Linked DNA regions of Homo sapiens. The protein of the gene in region 1 purifies or fractionates together with the protein of each later gene. This does not show direct contact. Each region holds a gene or a part of one and is shown on either strand. Other genes may lie near its edges.

Region 1 (7,000 bases):
TAAATGAGCTAATCTTTGTCCAATGTTTAATGTTATGCCTCACAGAGAGGGTAGTAAATGCTATTATTACACAAAATTTAAAAGATTTTGATACATGTCATCAAATTATACTCTAAAAGCAGACCCTTTCATAACCTTGGGCAAGCTCGTTTTATTCAAATCTGCAATGTGATTTACATTTCTTTGACCATTTGTAAAGCTGAACTTTCCCCGTACTTTTGACCATTTTTTGGTCCTTCTGCGAGTTGCCTACTGATAACCTGACTTGTTTTCTCCTAAAGTATTCAACTTTTTCTTACTGATCCGTAAGATCACTTCAAATATCAGCATTGGTCCTTTGTAATACATGACATAAATGTATTCCACAGTTTGTTTGCCTTTTAATTTTACTTTGTTTTTAGTTTTTGATATATAAAATTTAGGTAGTCAAATCTATTAGTATTCATGGTTTCCTACAACACCAAGAGTGAACCCTAATGTAAACTATGGGTGGTAATGACATATTCACGTCGGTTCATCATTGTAAGGGGGGAAATCTCCGTACCTTCTTAATTTTGCTGTGAATCTAAAACTGCTCTAATAAAGTATTTAAAAAATAAAAAATAAAGGTGTTACTGTTACATAAAAAATATTCATGGTTTCTACTATTCGCTCTATGTCTTCCTCATTCTGTGCTCATAAAAATGATAACATGGGTCTTTTCTTTCAAGGCCTTTTATGGTTTCAAGTTTTAATTTTAATTCAACTGGAATTTATTTTTATGGACACAGAAATCTCATCTAAAAAGCTTCCTTTAGTAACTGAAGATTCAAACAATGCTGCTTGAATCATTTTCTAAATTCCATTAATTCCAAGTGTCCTTTCTCTAGTTAAGAAACTAGTTATAATCATTTTTGTTGTTGTTGTTGTTTTATTTTATTTTATTTATATATTTTTTTGAGACGAGTCTCGCTGTGTCGCCCAGGCTGGAGTGCAGTCGCGCGATCTCGGCTCACTGCAAGCTCCGCCTCCCGGGTTCATCTCATTCTCCTGCTTCAGCCTCCACAGTAGCTGGGACTACATGCGTCCGCCACCACGCCCGGCTAATTTTTATTTATTTATTTATTTTGTATTTTTAGTAAAGACAGGGTTTCACCATGTTAGCCAGGATGGTCTCGATCTCCTGACCTCGTGATCCACCCACCCTGGCCTCCCAAAGTGCTGGGATTTCACTCTTGTTGCCCAGGCTGGAGTGCAATGGTGTGATCTTGGCTCACTACAACCTCCGCCTCCCAGGTTCAGGCAGTTCTCCTGCTTCAGCCTCCCAAATAGCTGGGACTACAGGCACACGCCACTACACCCGGCTAATTTTGTATTTTTAGTAGGGACGGGGTTTCACCATGTTGCCCAGGCTGGTCTCGAACTCCTGACCTCAGGTGATCCACCCACCTCGGCCTCCCAAAGTGCTGGGACTACAGGCGTGAGCCACTGAGCCCGGCCGAAACTAGTTATAATCATTTTTAATGTGTGCATAATATCTAATTGAATGACAATCCAATAATTTAACCATTCCTCAATTAGATATTTTGGTTGCTTTTAATTCTTCATAATAATAAATAATGTTAGGCTAAAGAGCTTAATGAATACTATTTTTTCTATATTTGAAAGTGTTTCCTTAAGCTAGAGTCCCAGATGTGGAGGTAAAGAGTCAAAGGAAATGGATATGTTTATAATGTTCATTATCTGAAATTCTCTTTACTTGGACCCTATTGAGCAACTTTTCTCAAGAACTTCTATGTCCCTTTTTATATACCTGCTCCATTCCTAAGTTGTCAGACATCTTTCCAGTATTATACTTTTCTCTGACCCCTCTCTAAATTTACATACTTAAGACTGTCATACATACCCTCTATATCACAAAATATCCTGCTTACCTTACCTTTATTTCAAATAAATCAGTAAGCTTGGTCCAATAGGATATTTCTTCCTTCTCTTTATTATTTTCTGCATGTACTAGTGAGTGAGATAAAGTAAGAATTTGAATGTGTGATAATACCAACAGATGGTAGGTCTTATTTGCTGGCAACAGTACACGATTGCCCATCTGTCTCTGCCATGATTCACACAGGGTATCAGATGTACCAGAATACTGAATACAGAATACTTTCAACAACACAGAGTGCCATGGTTTGGAGAATTAATACTGAACAAGGCTGTCAGGAATTATAGAGTAAACAGAAAGTATGTTACTTAAGCTACAAGAGCTCATGTCAAAGTCAGGATTCATAACATTCTTAAACTTATACATGAATATGCATGGTGGGCTCCAGAGGGCAGCTGACTTCTTAATGGTTCCAAAGCACGGATCTCCTAATAGAGCTGACATTTTTGTGAGTACTATGAATAAACTGAGTGGCAAAGAGAAGAAATAATTTCTTCTCTAAACAACGTTTTGCCATTCTAATTCTAGCAGGCAGATAAGCCAGTGATCATATTTTCTCCAACTGGCTTCTTTCTCTCTTACCCTCTTTCTTGTTGAACAAGAACCAATTGTGTAACCTGAGAGTCATCCTAAACTTTTCCTTCTCCCTCCAGCCTCACATTTAATTAATCACCAATGTCTGAGAATTCCACTCCAAAAGCTTACTTGAATCCATCCCCTTCATTCTCCTTGCCACTAATTTTATATCTTTATCACTTCTAAAATAAATTACTGCTCTTAAATGATCTCCACATCTTCACTCTAATGACTTTGGTCCATTTTGTACAGACTTGCTACCTACAGGTAAAACATAAACTTCATAACCTAGACCCTACCTGTATCTCCCACCTTATATCCTGCACTATCCTGTTCTCTTGCCTCCAGTCCCACCTATCCTCCCACCATATACCTAGAGGTTTAAAACTGTAAGTAAAATTACTTATAGTTCCTTGAAGAATTATTTGTCTCTCTTAAAAGTAGAGCATAGGCCGAGCGCAGTGGCTCATGCCTATAATCCCAGCCCTTTGGGAGGCCAAGGCGGGTGGATCATCTGAGGTCGGAAGTTCAAGACCAGCCTGATCAACATGGAGAAACCCCGTCTCTACTAAAAGTACAAAATTAGCCAGGCGTGGTGGTGCATGCCTGTAATCCCAGCTACTCAGGAGGCTGAGGCAGGAGAATCGCTCGAACCCGCGAGGCGGAGGTTGTGGTGAGCTGAGATCGCGCCATTGCACTCCAGCCTGGGCAGCAAGAGCAAAACTCCGTCTCAAATAATAATAATAATGATAATAAAATAATAATAGAGCATAATGTCTATAGGCTGTAAGATCAGTGATGATGGATCTACTAGTTATGAGCTGTGACCACAGGCAAGTGACTTAACGTGTCTGTGCCTTGATTTTCTCATCTGTAAGGCAGGGAATGTTTGCTGAAGAAAGAAATAATTTCTTCTGAGGCCTCACCTGCTAAATCTTTTTAATCTCTAAAAAAGAGCTATGGCCATAGGAGAGATTATTGTTCTCTACAAATGACTTCTAAATCTTCCCAGTGACCCAGCCTAGTAGAGGACACAAAGAGACAAGAAAAAAAAACCCAATCTGTTACTAATCCTTAGTCTACTCCATTAATAAGAACATGATTAAAAACAACATCCATGACTCATGGAAATGGGAACTATAAATGTAAAAATGTGAAATAAAAGTGAGCCAATGTAAAGCCCCCTTCCAAACTTTGGAGACATAAAATGATAAGGTATAGGTCTACACATGAGTTTTAAAGGAGTACAACTCAGCACATTATTCTTCACATTAAGAAATCACAGTGACCATTCAGAAAGGTCTTATATCTTTAATTAAAAGGATATTATTGGTTAGGCTCTGAAGGCCATGAAAAGGAAAGGGAAACACTTTGCATATAATTAGAATGCAATTTACTTATACATTATAGAGATCTTAAATCAGCATGCCTATTCTTTGAAAATAACAATCATTTAATATCTTAAAAAGACAGTCACGTATCTGTTTAATTGCTGACAGTCTTAATGATGGTTCATTTGTTCTCTTTTACCATTAATATTACAACTACTACCAAATATTTCAACAATTCCTTGCTGTATTCTTATTAATTTTTTTGTGTAAGCAGGTAATTTGAAAATTATGAGACTTTTAATTTATTTTCATATTTATATTATGGATAGGAGTTACACTAGATCATAAGTGGTATCTTGCATCTCTATTTCGATAGTTATTTAAAGCGAAAAGACGATACTTACCACAACTTGTAACACCTGTTCATTGTGAAGCGAGGAAGAGGAAGAAGATGAAGAAGAGGAAGAGGAAGAAGAGGAGGAAGAGGAAGAAGAGGAGGAAGAATAAGAAGAGGGAGAGTCAGCCATCATTTGTGCCAAAGTCTGCATCAGCGTTTTTCCAAGGAGAAAAAATGAGCTAAACATGGCAATTACGCCAAACACCATTCCAAAATTGAACCTGTCAAAAGGGAAAAAAATCATGTTAATTTACAATTTCTCTCAATTCATGGACTAGCAAATTCACTAAGCAGCCACATTTCATAGCTTTAAAATAATGGCTAAAAAATTTCAGTAACTCTGCTTCTTTTTCCTACATGAACTTCAAATATTTGACTGCAGCATGAGCACTAGTTTAAGCAGTTTTATAATTTATAATTCTCTGATAACTAAAGAATCTGAATATCATTCCCAATAAAAAAGTTTGTTTCCTCTCATGCACTTGCTCATTTACATAATATTGTTTTGATCTTGTCCTTATATCGTTATGAAAGCCCTTTTGACGTTATAGACATCCATCCTTTTTCATCTACCTCTTCTATTGTCTGCATCGTATTTCAGCTTTACTTTGTGATAAAATGAGCTTAAATATTAACATGGTATAATTTAATAATAATTTCTTTTTTCTATTGTTTTAATTATTAAAAGCTACCATTGTATAGTGGAGATAATCTGCCATGTTTTCTAACTTTGGTAAGTTGTGCTTTTCAAGGAACTTGTTTATTTCACTAAAACTGTCAAATTTATAGGCATAGAATTTTCTTAATAGTCTTACTATGTTTTTAATGCCTATAGAATCTGTAGTAATGTCCTCTTTTCAATTCCAATTTTTGTTTTTGAGACAGGGTCCCACTGTGTCACCCAAGTTGGAGTGCAGTGGCACGGTCACAGCTCACTGCAGCCTTCACCTCCCAGAGCTCAGGTGATCCTCCCAACTCAGCCTCCCAAGTAGCTGGGACCACAGACCCATACCACCACGCCTGGCTAAGTTTTATATTTTTTGTAGAGATGGGGTTTCGCCATGTTACCCAGGCTGGTTTCGAACTCCTGGGCTGAAGCAATCCGCCCATCTCGGCCTCCTAAAGTGCTGGGATTACAGGCATGGGCCACTGTGCCTGGCCTCAATTCTCATTTTTAATTACTTACGTTTCTTTTTTCTTCATCAGTCATGGTAGGGGTTTATCAATTAATATTTTCTATTTATTTATTTATTTATTTATTTATTTATTTATTTATTTATTTGAGATAGGGTCTTGCTGTGTCACACAGGCTGCAGTGCAGTGGTGTGATCTTGGCTCTCTGCAACCTCTGCCTCCCAAGTTCAAGGATTCTTGTGCCTTAGCCTCCCGAGTAGCTGGGACCACGTGCGCCACCATGCCCGGCTAATTTTTGTATTTTTAGTAGAGACAGGGTTTCACCATGTTGGCCAGGCTGGTCTCGAACTCCTGGCCTCAAGCAATCCACCTGCCTCAGCCTCCCAAAGTGCTGGGATTACAGGTGTGAACCACTGCGCCCGGCCCAATTAATATTTTCAAAGAACCAACTTTTGGCTTTGCTGATTTTCTCTATTGTATATTTTCTATTTCACTGATTTCTGTTCTTATCTTTATTATATCCTTCTTTCCACTTTGTATGCTTTGATCTGCTATTGCATTTTCTGCTAACTCTGATGATCTGATTGTTTACATTTAGCTCTAATCCATTTGGGGCTAAATTTTTAACAAAAAGAAATCTAGACCATGCCACCCCTGACCCTCACATTCTCTCATCTACAGAACCTGCCTGTATCTTGGGTGTCCCAGAGATCATTGTAAAGCCCCTAACTATAAATTGCCATAAATGCCTTGATTTTTAATGTATGCAAGCCACAATGATACAATCCCATAAGGTTATATAAAACCAGAAAGTTTTAATATTGTCAATATTTTAAAACTCAGAAAACTGCAAAGTAATGGAAATAGTTAATTTAACAAGCTGTCTGTCGTGATCACTTAATGATTAACCTAAACCAAACAAAAGAAGATGAAGAATACCATTGGTAAAGCATCCTTGCTTTCCGCCGTCCCCAACTGTAAAAGGCACGATTGAAAACAGCAGTTTGCCATCTTATGTGGAAAGGGGAGATGCTCAGTCCGTTGTTTTCCAGCCAGTCTTCATAAGAATGTTTAAAATAGACAGATGACTAAGAGAGAAAGAAAAGTTCTACATCACTCAATTTTGAAGAACAATTTATAATGTGTAAGAAAATAACACAAAGTATTTTCTAGAGGAAATTAAGATGCTGACTTCCCAAATGTTTATAATCTTAAAGCTTTATGTTTATTCTTCAGAATATTAAAGGTCACAGACCTAACCGGTCTACTGAGATTAGGGTCTGGTAAACTATGGGCCACAGGCCAAATCCGAACTACAGACTGTTTTCACACAACTTGTGAGCTAAGAATAGTTTTCACATTTTTAAGGGATTATAAAAAGACAATAAAAACCAAAAATATGCGACAGAGACCCTCTGTGGCCCAAAAAGCCTAAAATACTTACTACCAAGCACTTTACAAAAAGTTCGCTGACCCCTGCTTAGAACAGTGTTGTCCAATAGAAATATAATGTGAGCCACAAATGTAAGCCACATATATAACTTTAAATTTTCTAACAGCCAAATTTTAAATATTAATTTTCGTATACTTATGCCCCAAAATATCCAAGATATTTCAACATGTAATCAACATACACTATTG
Region 2 (3,566 bases), on another chromosome or scaffold:
TGGTGACAGAACGAGAGACTCTGTCTCAAAAAAAAAAAAAAAGCAACAAACTACATTCTCTTTTATTCCATATCCTTCTACTAAGGAGAAATGGGGTAAGGATTTAGTGGGATATACATAAAGTAAAGCTGTGTTTCTTCTATCAGTTAAAATTTCTACTGTTTTACTGATGAAAAGAGGATAGTTTTATTATGCAATAGTCTTAATAAGGGTTTGTTTTAAATTGGTTCTTATTGGTTGGTGAAAAGTAACTGCAGTTTTAAATGGCAAAAATCATTAAACACATAAGATATAAAACTGGGGCTTTGAGGTTATGAAGCTTAACTAAGTGTAACCATGCAATCTCTGATGGGTTGGGAGGCTTGGAGATTTAATTATTTTTTTCAAACGCTATTTTTTGGCAGAGGCTTCCACACCATTTGTAAATTACTTTTTGAAAACATTTACCAAAAGACTAAGGTACGACTACCACATAAAATTACTGTTTAGGGAGACAGAACTTCTGCATGAACTTTCCCCTTTGGGAAAAAGGGTTTAAAAAAACAAAAAGTAACATTTATTTGCGCCTAGGCTAATAGAAAGAATGAGACTAAACCCCTTGTTTGTTTTTATTGATTCTTTTTAAGATTGAAACAGACTATTACAACAATATTTGAGATTTCACAGAGAACTGCATGCTTTTGTTATTAAAAGACTTTTGTTGAAAAATTTGACCTTTACCTCTTATGAACGAAAGAAATATAGAGGTTTCAAGCATTTTTGCCAGCACAGAGTCATTCACAACAACCTTCTAGATGCTTATTTTCTACCTTTTCCTACAGAAGGTAATATTCAGTTACCAGAAGGCCATCTCCACCACTGAATGATTCAAAGCTTCAGAGCTCAAAAGTGATCAGAACTCACAAATTAGCATAATTAGTCCAAAGCTTGATTTAAATGTTTGAAGAACAGCAAACATCAAATAATATAATACCAAATAGAATATTATAGTCTCTATGAGGTAATAACTCATCAGCTACAACCACCTAAAACTGAAATTTTCTGTACTTAGTTTCTATTAGTACAACACCTTCATTCTTAATGCTTCTTAGGGCATCACAGGTTTTAGAAATTAATGTATTTTTAGCATTCCACAGTAATGATCACTTTCAAAAACTGCAATATACATCTGCATGTTACACTGACATACAACACATAAGTATTTTGTCACACATCAACTTTTAGCCTCAAATAATAGAATACAAAAAGCTACACTGGACATAACACCACAGAACTTTTGAATATCCCCTTTTCCCAATTGTTAACAGGTAGTACTTTTTTTCTAAAGAGAAAGTGATGAAAAATCCAAAATTTCTGCATCCAGTGTTTGACTCCAACTTTCTACTTTATCGTCTCCTGGTACCACCATATCCTAGAATGAGAGGGGTAAAATTTACATTAGTTTTTAAAAATGCATTAGAATTGCTTATAAAATTACAAGTCATACATGTTTATTGTCAGCAAATGAATGAGATAGGAGGAAAGGAAAGAGTGTGCCACTAGGTGGAACTGGGCTAAGCAGGACAGTGCATCGCCTCCCACAGCAACCTTCCCAATCATCAAGCCTACTACACTCACACATGGTTGCTGGGAATGACAGTTAGGACCCCAAAAAAGAGAATGCATTCTATAGTGGGGCCACCATGGTACAGGCAATACTCAAAGTCTAAGCCAAAAAGACAGAGGCCAGTGGCGCATAAGCCATGCCCTGCTACCTCTCACAACTCCAGTGGTAAGAGACGTAATGTGGGGAGGGTTACGGACTTTAGATGCTTAAACGTTACTTAAGACACTGTGCGCACACACACAGGCTACAGGATGACAAATCTTCCTATCTAGAAAGTCTCTCAATTATTTTCAGGTTTACATTATTTGGTTTTTATGATTTTCTTTCATATAATTCCCATACATTTCTAGTTCATAGTCATGATTTTATGCAAGTCTTCTTTCCACTGAGAATGAATATTTTTCTGTCATGATGTCTTACCTAGCCATATATATATATATATATATATATATATTTTTTTTTTTTTTTTTTGAGACAGAGTTTTGCTCTTGTTGCCCAGGCTGGAGTGCAATGGTGCAATCTCGGCTCACTGCAACTTCTGCCTCCCGCGTTCAAGCGATTCTCCTGCCTCACCCTCCCAAATAGCTGGGATTACAGGCATGTGCCACTACACCCAGCTAATTTTTGTATTTTTAGCAGACATGGGGTTTCACCATGTTGGGCAGGCTAGTCTCGAACTCCTGACCTCAGGTGATCCACCCATCTCAGCTTCCCAAAGTGCTGGTATTACAGGTGTGAGCCACCGTGCCTGGCCTTACCTAGTCATATTTTTATATATTCTCCCAACTCCTTTTTTTCTTCCCAGAAGTACCTACTATCTCATACTCTAACACCATAAATTAGTTTTGCCTGTTTTTGCATGTGTATTTTATAAAATGTAACTGCTATCATCATAGTGTATATATTATTTTGTGTCTGGCTTCTTTATATTTGGTAGATCTATCCATGTTATTGCACACAACTACTTATTCTTAGTTGCACAGTAACCCACTGCAATACAGCAAACATAACTCAATTTATTCATCCATTTTACTGCTGATGGATACGTGGGCTGTTTCCAGTTTTGGGCAATTATGAATAGGGATGCTATGAACAGTCTTGTGCTTATCTGCCAGCACACAAGTGTATGCATTTCTGTGGCGATATATCTGAGAGCAAAACTGCTCTGTCCTTTGGAAGTATGCATAGGTTCAATTTTAGGAGGTAGTACCAGTTTTTTTAATTGAATGTATCAATATATATCCAAACCAGCATTATGAGAATTCTACTCACATTTTAAAACATATTTAAATATATTTTTCTATCAATTTCAAGAATTAATCATTGTTCTATAACTTCCTTTTCCTGAAAGACAAAGCTACTCCAGAGCAATCTCTCATGGCCTCCTTACCCAGCAGCTCCCAATTAGGCTTGATGCTTAATCCAGTTATTCCTTTGTTTTTTTTGTATCTTTGCTTTTTACAAAATATCCTCTGAGCATTCCAATAAACATTACAATCATATTTTTGAAAATTAAAGTATACCTCAATATCTTTTTTGAATGTTATTGAATTTTAAGTTTAAGCTTCTACTTAGAAAAGTCTAGTTTAGAACTTAAAGGATCTCTAGAGATCACAGAATTAAATATATGGGGAAGCTAGCACCCAGTAAGGTTCAAGTTAAAACCTTGGTCTATGGTAGAGCTAAGCCTAAATCAAATCCCTGTTTGATTTTTAAAGAATGTTTAAAAGTGGGATCTCAGTTAACTGTGCTATTAATATTTTTGGTAGGTACACCAAATAAAACCATGGTTGCTAAACAGATAATCATCTTCTAAAGTTCCCAAACTATTTCTGTACTTTACTCCTAGGTAAAAGGAACTTGTATTTTTTGCTCTTACCTGATGCAGTTCTGGTTTTCGTGTCTGAGTTTGAACATACCGAATAGCTGCCCGAGCCTCCATGAAGGGGTGAGTAAGCCC

The links.
Region 2: the proteins of MBTPS2 (region 1) and SARAF purify together in Homo sapiens (affinity purification with mass spectrometry; 2 studies listed by BioGRID and IntAct, with this or other methods). This does not show direct contact.

Annotation. Positions count from the first base shown.
Region 1 is NC_000023.11:21,842,617-21,849,616, reverse strand, and holds part of MBTPS2 (membrane-bound transcription factor site-2 protease), read right to left. Parts: intron 6,448-7,000; coding exon 6,299-6,447; intron 4,447-6,298; coding exon 4,233-4,446; intron 1-4,232. UniProt on the Homo sapiens protein: Zinc metalloprotease that mediates intramembrane proteolysis of proteins such as ATF6, ATF6B, SREBF1/SREBP1 and SREBF2/SREBP2.
Region 2 is NC_000008.11:30,062,503-30,066,068, forward strand, and holds the end of SARAF (store-operated calcium entry-associated regulatory factor isoform 1 precursor), read right to left. Parts: coding exon 3,486-3,566; intron 1,412-3,485; coding exon 1,386-1,411; 3' UTR 501-1,385; downstream 1-500. UniProt on the Homo sapiens protein: Negative regulator of store-operated Ca(2+) entry (SOCE) involved in protecting cells from Ca(2+) overfilling.